2 separate regions of the Homo sapiens genome follow, and region 2 is linked to region 1. Evidence: fine-mapped expression QTL. A gene starts in region 1. The other region holds a variant in brackets. All regions are shown on one strand. Distances are between the middles of the regions.

The links.
Region 2: its variant is fine-mapped to the expression of SEMA6A-AS1 in T cells (TOPMed, PIP 0.95).

What each region holds. Positions count from the first base shown.
Region 1 is chr5:116,444,208-116,456,241 of GRCh38, reverse strand. SEMA6A-AS1 (SEMA6A antisense RNA 1) reads right to left here and starts at 8,744. Exons shown (of 3, transcript NR_109879.1): 1 at 8,451-8,744; 2 at 6,425-6,614. It overlaps SEMA6A (semaphorin 6A), which reads left to right. Exons shown (of 19, transcript NM_020796.5): 19 at 8,431-12,034. The coding sequence ends at 9,629. RefSeq lists a silencer at 1,459-1,538.
Region 2 is chr5:116,289,841-116,301,874 of GRCh38, reverse strand. It overlaps COMMD10 (COMM domain containing 10), which reads right to left. Exons shown (of 7, transcript NM_016144.4): 6 at 10,299-10,358; 7 at 8,588-9,424. The coding sequence ends at 9,386. Among named protein-coding and RNA genes, the nearest start is that of MIR12130, 40 kb to the right of the region's middle. The variant C/A (reference allele first, on the strand shown) is at 8,385.

The DNA of each region.
Region 1 (12,034 bases):
TTCTGTCTCTAATTAGTTCCAGGTGATGTTAATGCTGAGTGGCACTGATTCAGACATTTTCCACGTTGCTGATGGGCTGTCTTATTTAAGTTCACTAGTCAAGGTTTTGTTGTAGTTGTAAATCCTTATTTTTACACTTTTGGCTAACACAGTTGAACCCTACCAAAGTGTTGCCTTAAAATAGTCTAATCTTGGACCCTGTACAAGACAGGCAACTTGTCAAACATTCTAGAAATACTGTCCTTACATTATTAATTGAGCATTAACACGTTTTCTGCACAATGCCAACTGCTTTGTGTTCATTTATTCAACCTATTTAGTCCTTCCAACAATGCTCATCTTATAGCCAACACTACTGGGGCCTGGAGACCGAGTGACATACCCAAAGTCACACAGTTAGCTATTTGTAGAGCCAACACGCAAACCCAGGTCTTTATGAGCTCAAAGTGTATGTTCTTAACCAGTAACACCCAGTCTCATCTTTAACCCAGATCTCAAGAACTACATTTCTAGAAAATTCAAGTTGGAAGATTTAGCAGTATTGAAACAGACCTGTTTCTTCATATCTGTTTTATCTTTGCTTTATAGAGAAAATTCAAAGCAAGTAATCAAATAATCCAAGCAAAGACTTGCCCAAATTTCACAATTTTTTAAGGAGGTCCACTTCTCCATTTTGTGGCTTTGATGCCTTTTGAGAGAGTAAAGGAAAAAGATGGGACCAGGAAGTTGGAAAATAGAAATGCTTTGTCTGGTTTTAGAAATCACTTAGATGTTGTGTTTCTCGTCTTATTTAAGAAAGCTGATGAAAGAAAACTTCAAAAAGCAGGAAAATACGCCTTGCAGACTCTGCTAAAACTTTGCCAATGTAAAAGAATCATTACCTTTACGGGGACAGTAACAGTTCTAACACATGAAACCACAAACCAGCATTCCAGGGCATGGCTTTTAAAAATTATCTTATCATGACTCTTAGTCTAGACATCAGCCCGTGCTCTGGCTGTAGCACTCCCATTGGCAATGCCATTTCTAAAGCAGTAGAGCAGTGGAGGAACAGTGAACTGAGCGTTCCCAGCACACAGGGAAAAATGAAGCTGTTTCTTCTCTAAAAAAATGAAATAGAATGAATTCCAGGCTCATTCTCCCTTCTATCCCTGTGATGACATCCCAACCAAAAATGCATCACTTTTAAAGGTGATCGAAGTGGAAGTGGGTTCATCTACAGTCAACCACTCCAAGCATTATTTCAATATGTGAGTTTTAAAATAGCTTCTGAATTCAGGACATTAAACAGCCAGGCCAGGAAGCTACCTCCACTTTGGCATGGTCAGTCATTAACTTTATATATCTTGAAGACCATGGCCCCTCCTGGTACCTAATCTGTAGCCTGCCAGGAAAAACACATACATACACACACACGCGCACACACACATGCACACACACACACACACACACTTAAAGGAAAAGGAAACTTTAAGTTATAAACTCCAAGCCTATTTCCATGGCTGCTGGCATGTCAGTTTATTCCTAAGCCATCTGGTTCACATTATGCCGTAAGACAAGAAGAAGGCTGCTTCCTGCCCAGATAACCACAGAGAGTTCCCATTTCACTTTCAGCGTGGTCACCTCGACTGGCTGGGGTGTGGCTTTGAGAATAAATTGTCTCCAGTTAGGGTTTTTCCCTTGTTTGTTTTCTTCTCTTCTTAATAGGGATTACAGCGGGCCCTGTGTGGTTAGCGGGGCGATGCTTGGCTAGTGATTAGTTCATTCATTTATACTGTCTTGCAGGACCGTGAGCCTGGAATTTTGTTGCAGTAAGATTTGCAAACAAGAAAAATTGGGCTGTTAGATTCCATTCACTCAAGTTGTTATGAGGATTTCAAGGAAATTGTAGGCTTGTCTTACTATAAAGCAGAATCAAGAATCTATTTTTAGGGGATGCTACTCCGGGGCTTTTCTTGGTGTTTTGCCATCTTTCTTAGCTCTCAGACCCAACACAAACCCTCTCTGGCTCAGTGATGGAGGAAATGTCCATCCTCCTTTTTGCCTTTGCATATTTCTCTAAAGGACACAGAGAGGCTTTGTTGTCTTTGTGGTCACCGGGTCCACTTTACACAGATGCCTATTAATCACTTCACTATGGAGACAGACACATCCATCATATCACAGCAGCTCAGAAACGGGCCGTCCAGTGAAAGGGGGTGAGAGGGGAAAGTGCACACTTAACCATTTCGAGTTAGGTTACTGGTTGCCTGTGTCTTACACGCTTAGGGTGGTAATTGGGGTGGGGGTGAGTAGAGCTCTTCCTTTGTATTTAGCTTAATAGGTGTGATTAATTTTACGTATTTTTGCTTGTCTGTTTGCTTCACATTTTGATAGGACAGATAACATCTCCCAGCTATTTGTGTAAGGTGCAGGGCATTAGTATACTTTAAGATTGAGAGTTTTAATTTTAAAAACAGTAATAATAAATGCAGGTAGACTAGCTGTGCTTTTGATGCAATGATACTGACTCTTTGAAGCCAAGAGTTTTGCGATAATGGATTCAATGTGGAACAGAGCAAGCCGAAAGTTAGCTTTCTCAGGCAAGAGAAACTGCAGATAAATTAACCAAGAACTTTCCTTCTATGAGTGGCAGATCTTCTAAACCTCTTTTTTAATCATTCAAGGCTGTCCACAGCCTTCCAAATGGTATTTCTAGCTCTTGCTCTTGTATTTTCTCTACAAGTGCTCATTCATGTATGCATTCCTTTACTATTTATTTAAAAGATATTTACTGAGCACCTTTCTGCCTGAAGATTCAGTGGTGAGTTTTAGCAGTCTAGGTGAGAAAAACAAGTATCATACTAGTGATGATTTTAGAATAAAGGGAATGCAGAGCTCTGGGGACACTTTAGAAGGAAGAACTTAACTGGCCTAAGGAGTCAGAGAAGGCTTCCCCATTTAAGCTGAGCCCTAAAGATAGGGTCTGATGAGTGGGAAAATGAGTAGGGACATTCCAGGCAGAGAGAACAGCCTGTATGAGAGCCATGAAGCAAGCTTGAGTATGGAAGGGTGGCTCATGCCTCCAGCCTAACAGACTAGAAGGGAGTTAGACCATTTGCTATTACTCACTACGGCCTTCCCTTTCCTTCCCTCCAAGGCTCAGTTCTTGTTGCTCTCTCTGCTCCAGCTAAGATCCTGTGCATCTTTAAGGCTTAGCTCAAATGCCATTTCCAATGTAAAGCTTTTGCCCACTGTTGAAGCAGAAGTGATGTAACTCATGACATAGCCACACTTTGGACAGAGTTGTATGCAAGCACTTGCCTTCTTCCCTGCTGGTTTATGCCTCATTCATCATTGTCCTTCCCCGACACCTAGTGCAGTGCTTGGTAAATGTTTGCTGAAGGCAGCCACAAAGATGCTTGGAGCCAAAACCTTGTTATACTAGGAGAGTGATAATAAAGAAACAACCCAACCCTAAGTTAGGGGAAAACATCATTTCTAAAGCAAATTGTCTCAGAGCCTGGTGCTAGGTTCCCTTTGCACGGAATAGTATCCATGAGCAGGACTACTAGAAAACATTTTTTAAAATAAGGAATGTAGTGTTTGATATTTCAAAATTTATTAACATGGTCATCATAGGAAAAGTCAGAATTGTATTGGGCTTCCTCTTAGTTTTCAGTTTACAATTGTTCTTATTTTGAATCACATGTTGCAGGGTCTAGGGGCAGGGTCCTTCATAATCTTTTCATTGCTTTGGACTCTAAAGAACTTCAAATTTCCTCTCTGAGGTCTCCCTCCAGCATCTGAAAACTCTCACCTCAGGAAAAAAAAAAAAAAACAGTGGAGATTCTATTCTTTCTCAGTTCTGCCAATTTAAGACATGATTTCAGAGAAATCTCTAAGCCAGGGTGTGCCTTGCTTCCTGCAATAGGAAGGTGGAAAGACTAACCATTTAGCACCTTATGACTGGTGAGAAATAGCTGGTGGTTAATGAATCAATGCAAAGGATTTTTCAAATACTGTTTTCATTACTAATGCCCCATTTTCAATTGGTAAGAGCAGAAGAGGATGCAGGGGTTGGCAGAGGAAGGAATTTCAAGACCCTAGGGTAGAGAAGCCAACTCTGATTGTTCTCTCTGCAGTGGGAGGATACCTGCGGAGGGGAGTACACCACCCTCCAAGGGCCCTTTACTTGCCCAGGGCTTCCAGGCAGCATCTGAAGCAAGGGATACTCAGCTCTAGCCTGTTGCCCTTTGCCCTTTGCCCTTTGCAGAGATGCATTTTTTTTTTTTCTAATTATTCAGTTCCACTGGGGCACTCTGTTGTTGTAAATAACCCATTTATCGTCATCGACTCTTTTGGATTTTTCCCAGAACTAATTTCATTTTTGAAATAGTTTCTCTTCTTATTGTTTTGAGCAAATACTGAGCACCATTATAGATTTATTTTTGTTTGTCTGATAGATGCTACTATTAAAATTCTTTTATATGATTGGAGATAGAATTTATTTCCATGACTTCAAAAGCAAGGGTGATAGTCACTCTAAAGATTACCTCCCAAGTTTAGAAGTTCATTTAAAAATAGCTCTACAATGTATTGAAAACCCATTTATTCAGCCATCATTTGTTGAGTTACCCAACTAAGAGCTCTGTGGATGGCAAGGGTTATAAATGCCGAAAAAATGTGGTACTTGCCCAGGATTTGCACTCCACTGAGAATCCAACTATAATTGCCAACATTTTCCACTTCTGTTGTTTTAATTATTTCAAAATTCAGTAACTATAGGCATCCTGAAACAGTATGCATTCCCTTATATTGCTTCGAAATCTCATATCACCTTTTTGACTACATTTAGAAGGCACGAAGTTTGGACCTGGAAGCACAGGTCTACTCCTCTCCCATGGGAGACCAATAGCAAATGGAATCCAATGGAGCAGCTGCGACTATCACTTGGAAGCCCTCTGTGAGCCACTAACCCACCACTTCTCCTTTGTGGCTTCTTTTGAGCTTTAGATTTGTCCAGCAAACTACAGCATTTAAGCTCTTTCCTATTTTTTATTTCCTTTGATTCTTGTAACAATCCAGTAAGGCAGTAAGATTAGGTGTGTTCACCTCATGCTACAGATAAAAAAACTGAGGCCCAGAGATGTTAAGTCACTTGCCAAAAGGTCACCCAGCCAGTAAGTGGGAGCCTGCAATTCCAAGCCCACTGAGATCTTCTCTAGCTGCTTTTATCACCACTACTGACAAGTCTGCTGTTTCCAAGCCTTCACAATGGCTATTCCACAAAGTTGACTTGATCATTTCTGTGAATGCTTCTTTGGCCTTTTTCATGATATAAGCAGAAAGCTTTAAGTTTGAAAGGCATTTCCAAAAATAACGTTTACCTTATCTTCTTCAACTGCACTTTCAACTTACTCTCTGATCTGTTTCCATCTTTGGACGTTTCTGAATTTACACAAGCAGATGAGGAAAGCCCTCTGCCTCCCCATGGATAGATGAAGACATGCAAAAATGTTTTTAAGGCCACTCTTTATATAACAAAATGAGACGGGGGAAAAAATCTGTCTGAGATACCATTTTCCTGAAAGGTCAGATCCTACTTAACTTGTTAACAACCAAAAACCTGAACTCAAATATCATCCACTAAAAAAGAGTTCTTCCCAGTGAAAGAATAAGTAGCTTTCATGAGTCTAAAATAGCCAAGGACCTTCAGACATGAAAGAAGAATGATATTTGGGAGCTAAAAGTAAGGCTAAGAAGCAATGGATACATGTGAAAAATTTGCAGTTTTCCCAGTGAAACCAATGAATTGCTCTAGCTTTACTCTTTCCACGTTCCTTTTAAACTGAGAGGGCAGTTTAAATTGTAGAATGCCAAAGTCAATTGTAAATAGCTTCCTATTATAATACACATTTATTGGGAATATCCAGTCCCCCTAAATTTGGTAGCCTGGAAGGGTTTCATGAAATACTCATTGCCATGAAAAAAACACCTAATACACCCCCACCCCATTACTGGGGCCGTCTAGCCTGTGTTCAACTCCCACTGAAATCACCAAGTCAATGAGAGAAATTAAAACCATTTTATCCACAGGTGTACATTTTTGTGCAATTATATGTAGGGGGTTAAAAACGGTGTTCGGTAGAACCCCATACATAATCAAAATTGAAGAAAAATCAGTAGCTATTTTAGCATAATAAGGAAATGCAAATTTAAGAAAGAAAATTTTCATTAGCACATTTCCTTGGTGAATAGGTACTAAAATATATTTGAATGCAGGACACCCCACTGTTTGGGGAGCTTCACACATAAAAGGTGTGAGTTACAGCCAAATTTCCGGCTGTTTTTTGCTTCTCAGTTTCTACCCCTTAAAAGCTGATGGAGATAAATCTGGAAATATTTGAAAAGTATCACATTTGAAAATTATTTGATATCTTACCGTCTTGTACACTCTTTCCTTATGGTGAATTGCCTTGACTGCCTTTTATTACCAAGGGTATTTGTTGGATCACAGAATCTTTATTTCTTAAGAGATATTTGCTGCTTCTACTTAAGTCACAATCCTTTGTCACAGGACAATCATTTCCACAGCAACCAACTGTGATGTCACAATTGAAGGGAGGAGGACCCTTAGGAAGGAAAGAAAAAGAGAATGTACTTTTCAGGCTAAGGTTTCTGGGTTTTAAAACCATCACTTCAGAAATCAAAATATTTTAGCAGAAAAACCCCCATGAGAAAGCTTCAAGGTCTCGGCTGTGACAAAGACAACATTTCAGTAGAAGTTTAAGGTTGCGTGTTGTGGGCTTGGGAAGGGGTAGAGATCTTTATTTCCTTTCATTCTAATTCTGTGCCACTGATACCTGCCAGTAAAATACATGAAACATATTCCAGAAAGAGTTGATTTAGTAGATGAAAAATGCGTCTCCCGAGACCAGAGAAGGTACCTTTTCTGTCTTGCTATCATTTCCATAATAGGAACAATGTTTACATTTCCTCAGCCCATGCAGTGCCTCTAATGTATTCATGTTCTTTCACTCTCCAGAGGCAGGAATTGAGGTATTAGAGATTTTATTTTTTAGCGACTGCATCAAGCACTTAAGATCTGACAACTGTGATGTGTATTCTCACTTGGTATTAAAAAATAAAAGCTTCTGTGTTTGCATTTGATTAGAGTCACTCAGCTGGGTGGCTGATTAAGCAGGAATAGCGAAAGCACCTTCCTTCAGAAACACTGAATCCTGGTTAATGTAGTGTAAGATTACGGATGGGTGTAGTCACATAATTTTTATTAAATTGAAGAGATTAGCTCTGCTGAAAAATCCCACTGTGACAGCAAACTCTAGGTGCAATAATGGTACCTAACACTTCTCAAACCCACTACAGGGCCCCAAATGGTCTTATTTCTGAATCTTCTTTCAGTTCCAGTGAGAAAGCTTCATTCAAATATTCAGGATAGTTACCTGAAATTGAGTTTGCACTGTTTTTTTTTTTTTTTTTTTTTGAGAGGTGATGCAAAATCAGCACAAACATTTGTAGTCTGTGAACTTTAGCTATATTCTCTCAGTGTAAATAAAAATGACACACACTCTCTTTCCTCTAGTTGCTTAAAAGGCAAACACTTTTCCCCAGACGGAGGCTCCGGTGGCCACAAGGGGGCCGTCGGAAAAGATCCCAACTGGAAGCCCAGAGTGTGTGATTTGTTTGTCTAACATGCATAAAATTGTTGCCTCTTCCTCCAGACTCAGGATAACTTGGTTATCCCAGTTCTAGGAAGGGAAGGTTAAAAAGCCATAAAGAAGGAAAGAAAGATAACTTTTGAAAGCCAAAACCTCCCATATTCCCTGGAGTGAAGCAGAGTAGAAAGTGCAGGTACTGGAAAGAGTGAACAGCACTTTTCTTTCTTTCTTTTTTTGAAACGGAGTCTCGCTCTGTCACCCAGGCTGGAGTACAGTGGCCTGATCTCCCTTCACTGCAACCTCCACCTCCCAGGTTCAAACAATTCTCTACCTCAGCCTCCGGAGTACCTAGGATCACAAGCCCCCGCCACCGCGCCTGGCTAATTTTTTTTTTTTTTTTTTTTTTTTTTAGTAGAGACGGGGGTTTCACCATCTTGGCCAGGCTGGTCTTCAACTCCTGACCTCGTGATCCACCCGCCTCGGCCTCCCAAAGTGCTGGGATTACAGGCGTGAGTCACCGTGCCCGGCCTGAACAGCACTTTTTTAGACAACAAAGAAGGCTACAAATGGAGTCCATTTACATACTGCACACGAGGGGCTTGGGGAGGATTAATTGGTTAATGTTTGGCAAGCTGAGCTTGGAAGACAAGTTGTGCAGAGGTGCTGTTGTCACTTACTACTGTTATTAATTAACAAGGTGAATGCCAAGCAAAAACAAGCCTCGGGGTGTGCTTTCATTTCTTAACGCCATATGCGATGTCTATTGCAGGAGTGATTCGGGAAAGTTACCTCAAAGGCCACGACCAGCTGGTTCCCGTCACCCTCTTGGCCATTGCAGTCATCCTGGCTTTCGTCATGGGGGCCGTCTTCTCGGGCATCACCGTCTACTGCGTCTGTGATCATCGGCGCAAAGACGTGGCTGTGGTGCAGCGCAAGGAGAAGGAGCTCACCCACTCGCGCCGGGGCTCCATGAGCAGCGTCACCAAGCTCAGCGGCCTCTTTGGGGACACTCAATCCAAAGACCCAAAGCCGGAGGCCATCCTCACGCCACTCATGCACAACGGCAAGCTCGCCACTCCCGGCAACACGGCCAAGATGCTCATTAAAGCAGACCAGCACCACCTGGACCTGACGGCCCTCCCCACCCCAGAGTCAACCCCAACGCTGCAGCAGAAGCGGAAGCCCAGCCGCGGCAGCCGCGAGTGGGAGAGGAACCAGAACCTCATCAATGCCTGCACAAAGGACATGCCCCCCATGGGCTCCCCTGTGATTCCCACGGACCTGCCCCTGCGGGCCTCCCCCAGCCACATCCCCAGCGTGGTGGTCCTGCCCATCACGCAGCAGGGCTACCAGCATGAGTACGTGGACCAGCCCAAAATGAGCGAGGTGGCCCAGATGGCGCTGGAGGACCAGGCCGCCACACTGGAGTATAAGACCATCAAGGAACATCTCAGCAGCAAGAGTCCCAACCATGGGGTGAACCTTGTGGAGAACCTGGACAGCCTGCCCCCCAAAGTTCCACAGCGGGAGGCCTCCCTGGGTCCCCCGGGAGCCTCCCTGTCTCAGACCGGTCTAAGCAAGCGGCTGGAAATGCACCACTCCTCTTCCTACGGGGTTGACTATAAGAGGAGCTACCCCACGAACTCGCTCACGAGAAGCCACCAGGCCACCACTCTCAAAAGAAACAACACTAACTCCTCCAATTCCTCTCACCTCTCCAGAAACCAGAGCTTTGGCAGGGGAGACAACCCGCCGCCCGCCCCGCAGAGGGTGGACTCCATCCAGGTGCACAGCTCCCAGCCATCTGGCCAGGCCGTGACTGTCTCGAGGCAGCCCAGCCTCAACGCCTACAACTCACTGACAAGGTCGGGGCTGAAGCGTACGCCCTCGCTAAAGCCGGACGTACCCCCCAAACCATCCTTTGCTCCCCTTTCCACATCCATGAAGCCCAATGATGCGTGTACATAATCCCAGGGGGAGGGGGTCAGGTGTCGAACCAGCAGGCAAGGCGAGGTGCCCGCTCAGCTCAGCAAGGTTCTCAACTGCCTCGAGTACCCACCAGACCAAGAAGGCCTGCGGCAGAGCCGAGGACGCTGGGTCCTCCTCTCTGGGACACAGGGGTACTCACGAAAACTGGGCCGCGTGGTTTGGTGAAGGTTTGCAACGGCGGGGACTCACCTTCATTCTCTTCCTTCACTTTCCCCCACACCCTACAACAGGTCGGACCCACAAAAGACTTCAGTTATCATCACAAACATGAGCCAAAAGCACATACCTACCCCATCCCCCACCCCCACACACACACACACACACACATGCACACAACACATACACACACACGCACAGAGGTGAACAGAAACTGAAACATTTTGTCCACAACTTCACGGGACGTGGCCAGACTGGGTTTGCGTTCCAACCTGCAAAACACAAATACATTTTTTAAAATCAAGAAAATTTAAAAAGACAAAAAAAAAAGAATTCATTGATAATTCTAACTCAGACTTTAACAATGGCAGAAGTTTACTATGCGCAAATACTGTGAAATGCCCGCCAGTGTTACAGCTTTCTGTTGCAGCAGATAAATGCCATGTTGGGCAACTATGTCATAGATTTCTGCTCCTCCTCTCTTTTAATGAAATAACGTGACCGTTAACGCAAGTAACTCTTTATTTATTGTTCACCCTTTTTTTCCTTAAGGAAAGGACTCTTCCAAATATCATCCTATGAACAGCTCTTCAGAAAGCCCATTGAAAGTTAAACTATTTAACGTGAAATCCATTAACTGGAATAATTGAGTTTCTTTATTTTTACAATAAATTCACTGAGTAAATAAGTTGGAGCTGGAATTCTGAGCTTTGTGTTTGGACTGTCTGGTCTGTAGCTAAAGGAAAAAGTTAGGAGGGGAATATTTATTTAAATCTATCAGTTCATTGCCTGGTCAGGTCTCTGGCCTATAAACATGCAAAAAAACTAATTCATGTTAAAGTCCTTCCAGATCCTAATTTCTAAAGCAATCAGGAGAGAAAGCTTTTAGAATGGCACATCATATCTCATTGATGCCAACATGGTTTTGTCCATGGTTCTGACTTTCTGTGAAGGCACCAGCTTGCAATATGCCATCCCATTTCACCTTGCATGTGAGACAGCAAACAAAATCCACAAATGGTGTGAACTAATATGCTGGCTGCTACCTTGCATAAATTAATGATTTGATCACACGGGTTCTTCGTGGGGTTACATCTGTGAATAGCCTGTTTTCCACATGTAAATTTGTGCCTTACACCTTGAGTTGTGTACACTTGTAAACTCTTTATGATCAACTGTTCCCCCTTTTGAAATAAGTGCAGATATTTATTTAACCCTCCCTTCCCCACCCTCTGCCCCACTTCCAGCCCTCTGAAAGATTGGAGTCAAGCAGATGGAAGAATGCAGTGGTGATAGTTGTCATGCGACAGCCTGAGAACGCTGGGCAGCACCACACCCTCCAATTCACACTGCCTTCTAGTTGTGCCAACTGGAACCACCCTTTGGCTGTGCTGCGAAGCATGGACCCCAGTGTTGTTGTGGGTGTGTCAAATCCCCTTTCATCCTCAAGAGCTCCCTGCTTCCCTTAGATTATTTCAATACGGTGATATCCTTATTTGCTAGCAGAAAAGGGACTAACGTCCCATTCCTCTTTTCTGCTGCGTCCACTGGCTAGAGAGCAGGCGGTGCGCGGTTGGGCAGACACCTGGGAGGAGTCTCCAAGCCATGTGCACAGCACACACGTGCAGTGCACACAAAGAAATGACATGGAAATAGATGCAGGCAGGCTGGTCCCTGCTGTGATTAACGAGTAACTCCAAGTACAAGGCCGACCACAATGGATGCTGCAAAAACGTTGACTGGGGCAAAGGATTTTTTATTTTATTTTTTATTTTGTTAATTATGTTTTTAGGGGATGGGAGGTGGTGTGTGTTTTTCTCCTCTTGGTTTTCATTTGCTCAAGCACACAAAAGGGACTTTTGTTTACTCTATCATGAACAAAGGAACTGTCCACATACTGTAAACCATGAGCAGTGTTGTTGTTGTTTTTTTAAACAGTATATTTGGTGGTCTCTTTGTCTGCTTTTATTTCCAGTTCGATCTTCTGGGTTTAGTTTTGTCTTTAAAAAGAATTCAAAAAAAGACTGACAATGACAGTTTTGAGTTGGATAGTGAAAAAGTGGAGCCTCCATAATCAGTGTGGTTGCCTTCAGACCTGAGTACTTAGCTGAGGGTGGGTGAGAGCCCTTTGTTCCAAAAGTCCATTAGTTTTGCTGTTGTTTAGGAGTAGGTGGTTGTTGTTGTTTTTACTTTTTTTTTTTTTGGCTTTTGTAATGGAATCCATGTTC
Region 2 (12,034 bases), 150 kb after region 1:
GAGAGGCAGAAGCATTTCTTCCTCTATAACATATTCACCCTATTTCCATAAAAATGTTCTATTTGAAATCCTATACAGAGAAGTTTATGAAATTGATTTGGCTTCCTTTAGTAAACCCTAAAGTAAAAACGCTTAGAAAAATGATGAAATAAGGTTTAAATATTTAATTATAGGAGAATTTTTAACATTTCAAAAAATACAATCCTATGGAAAGAAAATTTGATCTGATGTGGCTCTATTTTTTCAAGCAGACTCTTGTAACCCTGGATCTCCTTACACAGACTATAGAGCTAAATATAAACATTAATTAAAATAATTTTCAAAGATTATCTTGCTTACAGATTTAACTGAAAGTGTAAACTAAAGAAAAGGGATCAAAGAGTAGAAATGCATTTACAGGAATGGCATTAACTTAAGGAAAATGATCCTGGAAAATCAGAGACGGGAAGGGTGCTTCATGGAATCCAGTACAGAACCACAGCACTGTAAAATCAGTGCATTTGGGTAAGTGCTTATTGAGGGCCTGAAGAAATAACCTCACAGATGGTGGCCACCCTCTACTGGTCCATCAGTTTAGGGCACCTATCAACACCTATGAGCCTGCCAAGCAGAACTTTACAAGATCACTGACCCAACCATATGAAGGAGGTTAATAGCATATCTAGCAAAGGTGGCCACCCCCAGAGTCCTCCAAGCCTGCTGTGTGAGAAATGCCTGCACTGGATAATTTGCAAGTCCAGAAAGCCAATGCATCCAAACTCACTGACTTTCTTTTTACTACTCTAGTTACTTTGTTTGGATGACATAAGGAAAGAACATACTTTGCAGTAAGAACCAAAACTCTGACAAAGAAGGCCTTGAGTTTCAAGGATTCACAGGGCATTCTGCCATAAGGTAGAAAAGTTAGATGTTATAAATATTACTCTATCATAAGAAACTGATCCCTCACATTGGGCTCTACATCTAAAGGCACAGTCTTAGTTGCATAAAATTAAACTAAACTGTTACTGAACAGCTTTCTGTGTGGCTCTGTTTATCTTGCCTGCTTTCTGTACTATCTATGTCAACTTTATCTGATTTTTGTCCAGCTGGTATATTTGTGATAAGTTGGAACAATCTGTGCCATGTAAAGGGAGACTTAAAAAAACTTTGTCAGAATTGTCCCACATCAGTGAGGAAAGCCTGTTTGTAGGCAGTGTGTACAGGAGTGTGTGTGTGTGTGTGTGTGTCTATGTGTGTCTTTAATCAAGATACTCTTTTCAGCAGGAAATTAAAATCTTCTGGGTAATGAGCTCAGAAAATCTATACACACTGAACATATATTTCAGTATAAGAATGTTGTTGATGTCTCTCTGGAGCACTTCATTTTGACCCTATCACATAAAACAACTCTGAAATTGCTAGGAATGTAACTGTTTTCAGTCTTGCAGCATCAGTACCCAGAAGCATGTGTAGGTCAACTTCATGACTATCATAAATCTCTTCACAGCAATGCGAGAACTTGCTCTAGCCTTCTGGAGGGCAGAAATCTGGGTCTCTGGCTGGTTATAAGGCTTTTATTCTCATGTTTATCTCCTGGATGATGAATAAAAGGATCAGTGACCTCAGGAGATACTCCCTAGAAGGGATGTGGCTATTCCCTAATGGAATTACCAAATACCAGCATAGCTGGCTAAACCAGTTTGAAAACTACTTTTGTACAACTTTAAGTTTACAATTATTTTAAGAATTTAGATAGTACTGTGCAAATAAATGGAGAGAGCCCAAGGCAGAAAAAAACTACATACTCTATTAATTCATTCATTCAGTATTTCTAAAGCACCCCAATGTTCGTAGAACTACTTGCAGCAGCATGAAAGAGAGTAAGAAGCTGGACTGCAAAGTAGAACACATGGTCTGGAATACACAAGTCACCTTTTCTCTGATCAGCTGGAAATTACTCTGCTCCTCTGTCAAAGCATAAACACATTCTTGGGATGGAGAGGAATGCTGGAGCTTCCAAGGTTGATGTGTTAAAGCAGCCTTATCCAGGGGACAGCAGCTTTTTCCTTTGTCCCCTTATGTAGTCTGGTTGAAACTGCAGAATAATTTGAAATGTGGACTAAAAATAGTGCACAAAGGAAACTTAGAAATCTCAGAAGGAGAGATGAGGAAAGGCCTTGAGAAATCACTGCACTCCTTGCCTTACAGCAAGTCTATATTTATCATAGATTTAAAAAACTTTATTATTGACTTTCCTTTAAAGTTTTGGGTAGAATGTACAGTGTTTTTAATTTTTATTTGCCAATTAAAAAAATACAAACATAAGTCAGAAAAAAATAAATGCAACTATTAAATTTACTATTAACTGCTTTCCTTTACCTAGATTTTTTGAAGGAAAAATCTTTAAAAATCATTAAAAAATCAGGTTCTCATTAAAAGATGCTAAAAATGACTGAACTCTGGTTTCACTAAAAGAAGATTATTATATATTCATTATTTTTCCTGCCTTGGAGATTGAAACAGTCTCTCTAAGCCTCTAGCACCATCTTCCTTACAGATTTGTTGACTGGACTGGCTTCACCTTTCCTGTCTTTGCAGACTACTTCTTTTGAAATAAAAATCAGTAACTTTCCATTTCAAATAAAACAAAGTAGGCTATGAAAACTGCCATCATTTAGATTTGGATTGTAGGCCTCCATAACAGCTAGTACAACCTTATAGTTCAGAGAAAAGCAAAAGAGCTTCAAAAATACTTCAGGAGTGTGCATATGGCGAGATGGGAGCAATGGTTAAAAATCCTTAAAATTCTCCAAAATTAAAAATGCCATTAAGCTTTACTATAAAATACCTCAAATTAATGTGTTCCTAATTTTAGCATTAAATGAAGCTGGTCTATTGAGTAGGACTATTTGCATAATGATGGCAAAAAAAAAATCAAAGTTTTAGGGAAGCAAAATTGATCAGAAATTTAAATTATAATTCCTGAGTAGCTTCTGACTAATGCATCTGAATAAATCAGAACCATCCCAGTCCTCTTATTCAACAGTAGAAAAAGAATTATGGAAAGACTTTGGGGGAAATTTACAATATACCCTTATGGTTTCTCAAAACATTTGTCTCAAAATAACCACACTGAAGGAGGGAGGTGAATATAGGTTCCCAGTAACACTGAGAATTTAGCCTGAATTCGCAGGCTGCAAGCACAAAGGTTTTGTTCTGTTTTTTAAGGTTTCCCATTTCCTCTTTAACATTTATATGCATTTTGCCATAAAATGTAAATCTCCATTTTAAAATATGTTGTACATTACTGGCCAATTATAATAAAATTATGTTGCCACCATATTAGTTAGGCTACAGGCAAACGTGCTGTGTATAGCCTAAACTGACCCCAAATTTAATAACTCAAACAAGATATTTTATTTCTGTCAAGGGCATGGAGACAGCTGTGTTCTATAAGTATATTCAGGGACCCAGGTTCCTTCCATCTTGTTGCTCCCTACCTCTTAAGCATTAGCATTCTTGTCTGCTCAAAGCTGACTCAGCTCCAAATCTGGGTTTCAATCACAGAAAGAGGAAGACAACTGGAGATGAATGATCACTTCCATTCACAATTCATTAGCAACACTTAGTTCCACGGCTGCAGTAGCTGCAAAAGAGGATAGAAAATGTAATTTCTTCTACTTCTGGCAAAAAGTAGAAGTGATGCTATTGAAATATATACAACGTCCATCTTACGACTTTTTGTGTTCCCTACCAACTACTTTATTTCTCTAGGGATGCTCCGGTTTAGAGAGCATAGTATAAAGCAGGGTTCTGCATCCTTTCTTTCTATAAAGGGCCAGGTTTTAGGCTTTGTGGGCCATATGGTCTCTGCTGCAACTACTCAACCCTGCTGTTGTTCAAAAGCAGCTACAGACCATATGTAAACAATTGAGCATGGCTGTTGTTTTAGTTATCTATTGCAGCGTAACAAATTACTACAAAGTTAGAGGTTTAAAACAACAGAGTTATCATCTCACAATTACCATGGGTAGAGTTCAAGCATAGTTTAGTTGGGTCCTTTGTTTAAAATCTCACAAGGCTGCAATAAGAGTCAGTTGGACTGTGCTCTCATCCAGAAGCTTAACAGGGAAAAAAACAAAACAAAGCCAAACAAAAAAACGACAAGAAAACCCATTTCCAGGCTAATTCAAGGTTGTTCGCAGAATTTATTTCATAGAGGCTATAAGGCTAAGGGCCTCAATTTCTTGCTGGCTGTTCTCCCTCAGCCCCTAGAGGTCACCCTCAGTTCCTTGTCATGTAGCCCTATCCGCAGCCTCTCTTATAACATGGTATTATTTCTTCAAAGCAAGGAAGGGAGAAAGTCTCAAGAGTGAGTTTGGTAGCAAGACAACTGTGTTCCAATAAAACTTTATTTACAAAGACAAGTGGTGGGTCATGTCCATCATTTGCTGATCCTTGGTATAATGAATAAAGTGTAGAAGACATTATTTACGGTAAGAAGAAATCAAAGTTCACTGAGTAGAGAAAAAGATTTCTCAGAGCCAGAAGAGCCACGTGGAAAGGTACTCAGAAGAAAGTATTTTTTTCATTCTGGTCCCATAATACATGTATTACCTCATTTTTTAAATAAAAAATAAAAGCAGAATTGGCATTGTGTTAGAATCTGTGATTATAAAATGGAGTTGTTATTAGAATGCCAAATAAGTTTAAAGTGAAGGGGCTTCATAGCAAGCTTTCTACAATTTTGACTCTAATTCAAACTTCACCTGGAAAAATTTCAACAGAGAGTCTGCTTATTTTCTTAATGATTATAAAAATGTCAGCTAATGCTTATTATATGATTGAGATTCAAGGATTATGCTAAATGTTTAACATGAATTTCACTTAATCTTCAAAACACTCATGTTAGTTAGATTATTATTCCTATTACAAAGATAAGTAAAGTGAACTTTCACAAATTAACTTGCTCAACACACACACACAAAGTAGAAGAACAAGGATATAACCTTTGCACTGTCCTGAGAAACCAGATCGTTAAATTTTACTTAATGTGTAATAGGATCCTTTGAAGGGTTTTAGGCAGGGAGATGGTATAATTAATAGGTTATTTTTTAAAAATTAGCTCTGTACAACGACTGGACTGGAGGAGGGCTAGAATGGAAGAAAGGTGGTCCAGGGCAAAGTTGATGGCAGCTTGGACAGGGTAGTGCCCTGGAGATACACTTGCAATACATTTTGGTGGTAAAAACGACAAAACTTGTAAGAGAATGGCTCCCTGTCTACCTAATTGTAGTGCACTCCACTATGCCATCTGTTCACTACACTCTAGCCACACTGACCTTTTGGTTCCTGAAATGCGCTAAGCCTTTCCCATCCTCTGAGATTTTGCATGGGCCATTCTCTCTAGAATGCCTGTCACTCTATTCTACTATTGTGCCATCTTAACTCATCATATTGGACTCAGCTCAAATCTCACTCCTCAGAGAATCCTTCCTTGATGCCCCAGTCCAAGTTTGGTTCCATCATTAATTTTCTCTGAATAGAATCCAATTATATTTTGTCCCATATTTGTTCATTTATTCCATATTTGTTTACTTTTCACTAACACATTACATTTCAAGAGGCCAAGAACTAGTTTTGCCTATCACTGTAAACATGGTACCTAGCATACACAGTTCCTGCCACCATATTCACCATACTCAGCAGTGATTACTTGTTGAATAAATAAATGCCTGACTTCGAAGCCCTTACACTTGAATACTGAGTTATTGGCTCTCATATTTGATTTTTAAAGAGATTTCCTTTTCAATCCTTCTATAGTTATCAAAGTGACATATCTCAATATGTCCCATCACTCTTCCTAAACAAACACTGACCTCAGGTTATAAAAAATGTTGAGGGTGAAATGTATAGAAGGAAGAAGGGGCTGCTGAAGGTGGCTTGAGGCAAGTGAGTTCTCATTCATTGTTTGTGGGAGTACAAATTAATATAATCCTTTGGAGAAACAATTTAGCAATATATATCAAAGGCCTTGAAATAAATATAAATGTATTTTTGAAAATACACAAGAGGTGTGTATATTTGTATTATAAGATGTCTGGTTTTTTGTGTGTTGAGATGGGGTTTTGCTCTGTTGCCCATGCTAAAGGGCAGTGGCATGATCACAGCTCACTACAGCCTCAACTGCCTGGGCTCAAGCAGTTCTCCCACCTCAGCCTCCCAAGTAGCTGGGACCACAGGTGTGTGCCACCACACCTGGCTAATTTATTATTATTATTATTTTTTTTTTTTTTTTTTTTTTTTTTTGTAGAGACAGGACTCACTATGTTGACCATGGTGGTCTCAATCTCCCGGGCTCCAGCAATCTGCCCACCTCAGCCTCCCAAAGTGCTAGGATTACAGACATGAGCTACTGCACCCACCAAATGTCTGCAGTATTAGGTAGGTACTTCCAGGAAGTGAGATGGCAAAATGGTGCAACTTTGTTTTAATGGGCAGCTATATATATATGTATGAGAAAAGGTCTCATTCTGTCACCTAGGCTGAAGTGCAGTGGGATGATAGAATGACTCGCAGCCTCAACCTCCTGGGCTCAGGTGATCCTCCCACCTCAGCCTCCTGAGTAGCTGAGACTATAGGCATGCACCACCAAGCCTGGATAATTTTTGTATTTTTTTATAGAAATAAGGCTTTGCCATGTCGCGTGGGCTGTTCTCAAACTCCTGGGTTCAGGTGATCCTCCTGCCTCAGCCTCCCAAAGTGTTGGGATTACAGGCATAAGCCACCACACCTGGCCTTGTTTTTTTATAATGAAAATCCGATTAAAGATGAAAATAGAAAATAAATCTTCATACTTTTGACATAGCAACTCTACTTCTAGGAATCTATACTAATAATATCACGAGAGATGTGGTCTAGGGTTTATGTATAATTATATTTATCAGTGAGTTCCCTACGTTCAAAAATTTGAATAATCTAAATGTGCCAAAATTTGGACAATTTAATTATTTTGAGAAATATAAAGTATATAAAGTATAGATCATTCAAATGATGAACTATTTAATATACATTAAAATTATGTTTGGGCAATAAAGATATGAAAAATGTTCATGCTGTAAGGGTACATAAAGCAAAGTATGAAACAGAATTTATGGCATTACTTCAATTTGTTAGGAAAGAAGAAAAAATGAACAAGAAAGATAAATGGATACAAAAAAACTGCAATAAATCTATCAAACTGTCATTAATGGCCATTTTTGGATGATAGGATTCTGTAAGTTTAGATTAGTTATTTATGATTTTTTGGTATTTCCCAAATAAAAATAATCATGATAATTTATAATTAGGGAAGAATTACAAATATAATTTGTAATAGATACAAAAATTAGTTCCTCTTTCTAACAAGCAATTCTGTCTATTCAATCCTCATGTCACACACTCGTGAAAGACATACAGTAACTTTATTTACCAAGATTGCAGTTCCAAGCCCCATTAATCTCATTTATCTTATTTTTATAAAAAAGTAACATGCATTTAATACTCTTTGGAAATGCCACATGTTCTTTGACTTGTGCATCATAACAACAGTAATGTCTTAAGAAAGAAAGTTATCTTCAACTAAATATTTCAGAAATAATTATCTTCTTAGTTGGCATTAGATCTTCTACTTGCCCTTTCTTTACTGTCTCTGAGTCAGATTTTGTTGAACTAGACTAATGGAAAGAAGACTATTTGCCATATTTTTGCATAGGTTTAGAGATATTCTTAAGATAAATATAAAGCTAATTCTTTTAGGGAGCATACAACGAACTACTTTCAGAAAACTTCATTTCTAACCATCATATTTAACTTGTATACCTACATTAAGAATTCAGTTTTGCCACTAAACCAACGAAAACTTCTATTTATCTATATGGCTACTGTCAGGAAGGCCTATCAAATTTAACTTGGGATGATGTATATTTACATGTACATGAGAAAAAGTCTCAAAGAATGTTTACCAAAATGTTTATAGTACCTCTAGGACTTCAGGTATTTACTTTTGAGAACTGGCAAAACAGAGCGTAAAAAAGTAGGAGAGATCCTACAAGCCACATTATATTGCAAACATGCCTTCCAGATATTCTACCAATGAAAGTTTGAGTTTAAAAACTTTCAATCAACTATGGAAAACTGTAATAGTTGTATTCTGAAATAATCCAAACTCTCAATTCTTCTAAGCAACAGCTTACAAATAGATATACAAACAAATGTGGGTATAAATTCCATATACTGAATATTTGAGAGATACTTAACAGTTGTATTTCCCAGATGCTTCAAATAAGAAATGTGCTTCAATTTCAATGGCTTTGCTTATTTAAATATAGGACATTTCTGAAATCAAATTTCTTCATGTGAAG[C/A]AAGTCATGTTTGAATCTCTCTCTTTTTGGAAACAATACAGAAATTTCATTCATAAAAAATTCAAGTTTTTTTTAAACAAATGTATGTAAATGTATTCATTACATACATTTTAACAAATGTACGTAAATGTATTCATTTACATACATTCATGGCATAAAATATACTATAATGTATATAATTAAAAAATGTACACTTCAACCAATCCTAAGACACAAAAATTTTATTGACAGAAATCAACGTATTTATGGAAAGAGAATATAAAAGGTATCTGATTCGAATAATGGTGCCCATTTAGCACTCATTACAATTATTTTATTCAAGACCTGATTCTGTCTCCCAAACTATAAAGTGAATCATTATTAATTTGCAGTATAAAGAAAAACACACAAAAACCTGGACTATTATTAAATCATTAAACTGAGAGAGAAACTGAAGTTGACAGAGAAGCTCAGACTGGAATTAACTGATACCATACTACTCACTATTTTACATTTCCTTCCTATATTATTTCCGAAGCAAAATATACTCATCATATTCAAATAAAAATGCCATAGTGTATTTGATTGTATATGGCTATTTTCTTAATTTTATTCATGTAATTACCAAAGCTCTGTATTCTACTAAGGTACACATCTTATCTTGTATCCATGGACGCTCCTTGATACATTATGGTATCATCCAGCAAGTAAAAACTAAGCAGGACAGGCAAGAAAGCAACACTATGACAGTAAAAACAATATGGTATTCACTTTTGTTTCCTTTAAAGGGAAAGTGTTCTTAATAATTACTGTTGGCTCACAGAACTAAAGAAAGTATATTAGAACCTCAGTATTCTTAACAATGATCTCTATTGGTTGTTATTTGTCTAAGAAGTGATAAGCCATATAATTTACAGAAAGCAAGTCACTGAATCCTTCAGAAAACACAACCTGGCAATGTATCTTCAATGCAAAATAATGAGGTGGCAGGAGCGTGATGAAAAAAACAGTCTTCGAAAACATCATGTAAGGGAATCCAGCTGTGCTTGTATAGTCTCTAGCTATTTACAAAGACAAAAAAAAAAAAAGACGTTAGTGAAGGGAACGAAACTCATATCAAGTGTTATTCAGACACATGCAAATAGAAAGGAAAAAATAGCACTGGTAACTATGAATATTAAATCCATTCACATAGCAATAAAATTACCACTTAGAATATTTTTCTTTTTAGGTGAAGATATTAGAATTTGTGCTTGAAAATTTAAGTTTTCAAATTTTCAAAGAAAGAAGATTTCTTAATACTGTTGTTTTAAGTGTCTTCAGCTGTTTCCTTTTAAATTATCACTCCATAATTTTTTTTTTAATGAGACATGGGGTTTTATTGGAGGCTTACATATGAGGGAGTGGGTACAGTGGTGGTGGGCTGAACAGGATAACCACACGCATGCTCCAGTGGCAGTACACTGGCAGAAGAACTGCCTACTTGATAATATTTTAAAGTTGGGGGGTGGAGGGAGTATATTTTCCTGGATTACAAAATCAGTCTTCAGAAAGAGACATGAAATATACTCACAGATAAATCTCTAAAGGCATGTTTCCCTTTACCCTTGGGCCCAGAAATTAAAGTATTTGACATTATATATATTTAAAGTGTCAGTGTGGCTAGGAATCACAAAGTTCATTACTTAATGTTTTATATTAAAGCAACAATCCTATTGCTTTAATTAAAACTATTTTCCTTTTCTTCCTGATTTAGTTTTTCAAATTCTCTTCATTTCTGCTATACTTCCTCCTGTGAAACATAAGGTCTTTTATAAGGGAAGTTTAAAGAACTTAGTTCCATAATATGACATTTAAAAATAAGAATTCATAAAATGAAACAAAATATTATGAAAAAAACTCCACATATTAGAAAATTATTTTAAAAATACAGACCTTGTTATAGAAATCAAACAACTCCTTGTGACTGAATTCCACAAGAACTTTCTCCAGGCTCTGTAAGGAAGAAAAACAACAAAAAGAATGTAGTTGCACACAATTTACATCACATTTTTTCTCTCCAGCTAACCTCAGAATATGACATAAGATTGTCCTCTGAGTGGTTTTAAAAAATGCTTACCTGCTCTACTCAACCCCATGATTCCTAGAACTCAAAAATGCACTTAATAACACTCTAGCAAAAGGTTTCAATTCTACAGACATCTGTCCTTTAAGTTGACTCTACGAAGGTTAATAAAACATATGCCAGTAAGAGAACAACTTTATTATCTAATTTTTTCAAGACAGAGATAATACATGAGATTATATTTCATCTTTCTCAGCAGTCTGTTTGAAATCTAGTAAATACCATTACACAAAGACACTGGAGGCAGGATATCTGATTGAACTCACCCAGCCATTAATGCCTCACATCAGCACAGCTACTGCCTCCAAGCACTAATCTAGCAGTTGTGATCTCAACATGCTGAGTGTTACCTTCTTCAATGTATAGACTCAGCAAAAGTTCACAATTAACACAACAGTTTCAAAGTCAGGACTTAAACACTCTCTTTCCTTTTACTTCACATGCATTAGAGAATCCTTTATGGGTGCTACAGATGCTAGGTAATATTGTATATGTATGTATGATGCTGTAGTAAAGTATGATATTAAACTAAACCCAACTCAACTCAATCCAACCTACTTTTGGTTGATTCTGTATACTGAGGAAACAATTCAAACAATTTGCTTAAGACTGCTCAAATGTGTTTATTTTACTCAAGGTCCCTCTGAAGAAGTGAAAGTTAATGAGGAGAAAATGCCAAGAATATGCTAACTGCTCTGATCACACTGCTGTAATCACATGACATAAAATGGGCATCATGAACTAAAGAAGTAGAAAACTGATGCAAAATTGAGCCACATGGTCATTTCCAACATACTGTTTATTCTAGTTCGCAGTTTCTATGTTCACTTTTATCTGTTTTAATGATTTCCATTTCTATTTACAAAGCCGACATTTCAAACCAAATTATCTCCAACTAATTCCAGAAGAGTCAATGGGGCTATGTTCAGAAAATGCATCTCACTCTTCATGAAGCTAAGTGTACAGGATCAAATTTCCATACTTCTTCATTTTCTCTCATATATCTAAGTACTTAAGCTTTAAAATGAAAAAAGAAGTACATCTGCTTTAAAGCCTCTTCCTTTAAGAATGATATAAAATCATGAAGTTTTTATACTATATTAGAAAAATTCATTGGCTGTCACACATCATTAAAGCTCCAAAGATTTAATCAGCATCATCTATACATAGTATATGCCCTCCTAGCAGTTAAGGAAGGATGATAAGCCTAGGTTTACCCTAAAGTTCTGAGAAAAGCAAGACAAGTTCATCACTCTCACCTCCATCCAAAAAGATAGGAGAGAATGAAGGCTGAATCAGCACGTAAACAACTGATCTGATGTACCCCTAAAGGTGGCAGTCAAGCCAGGTTCTTGTTTTCTATATTTTGCTTTGCTTTGTTTTAAGGTGGTGTTTCCTAAAATGTTACATTGAGGAAAGAGAAGAAATGTAACTTCGAAAACATACTTCTTAAAAGAACAATAGCTATAGGGGTAGACTAGAAAGCTAGAGGCCCTCTTTCCACCACTAAGGTACCAAGTTAACAATATACGGATCAGAATACCCT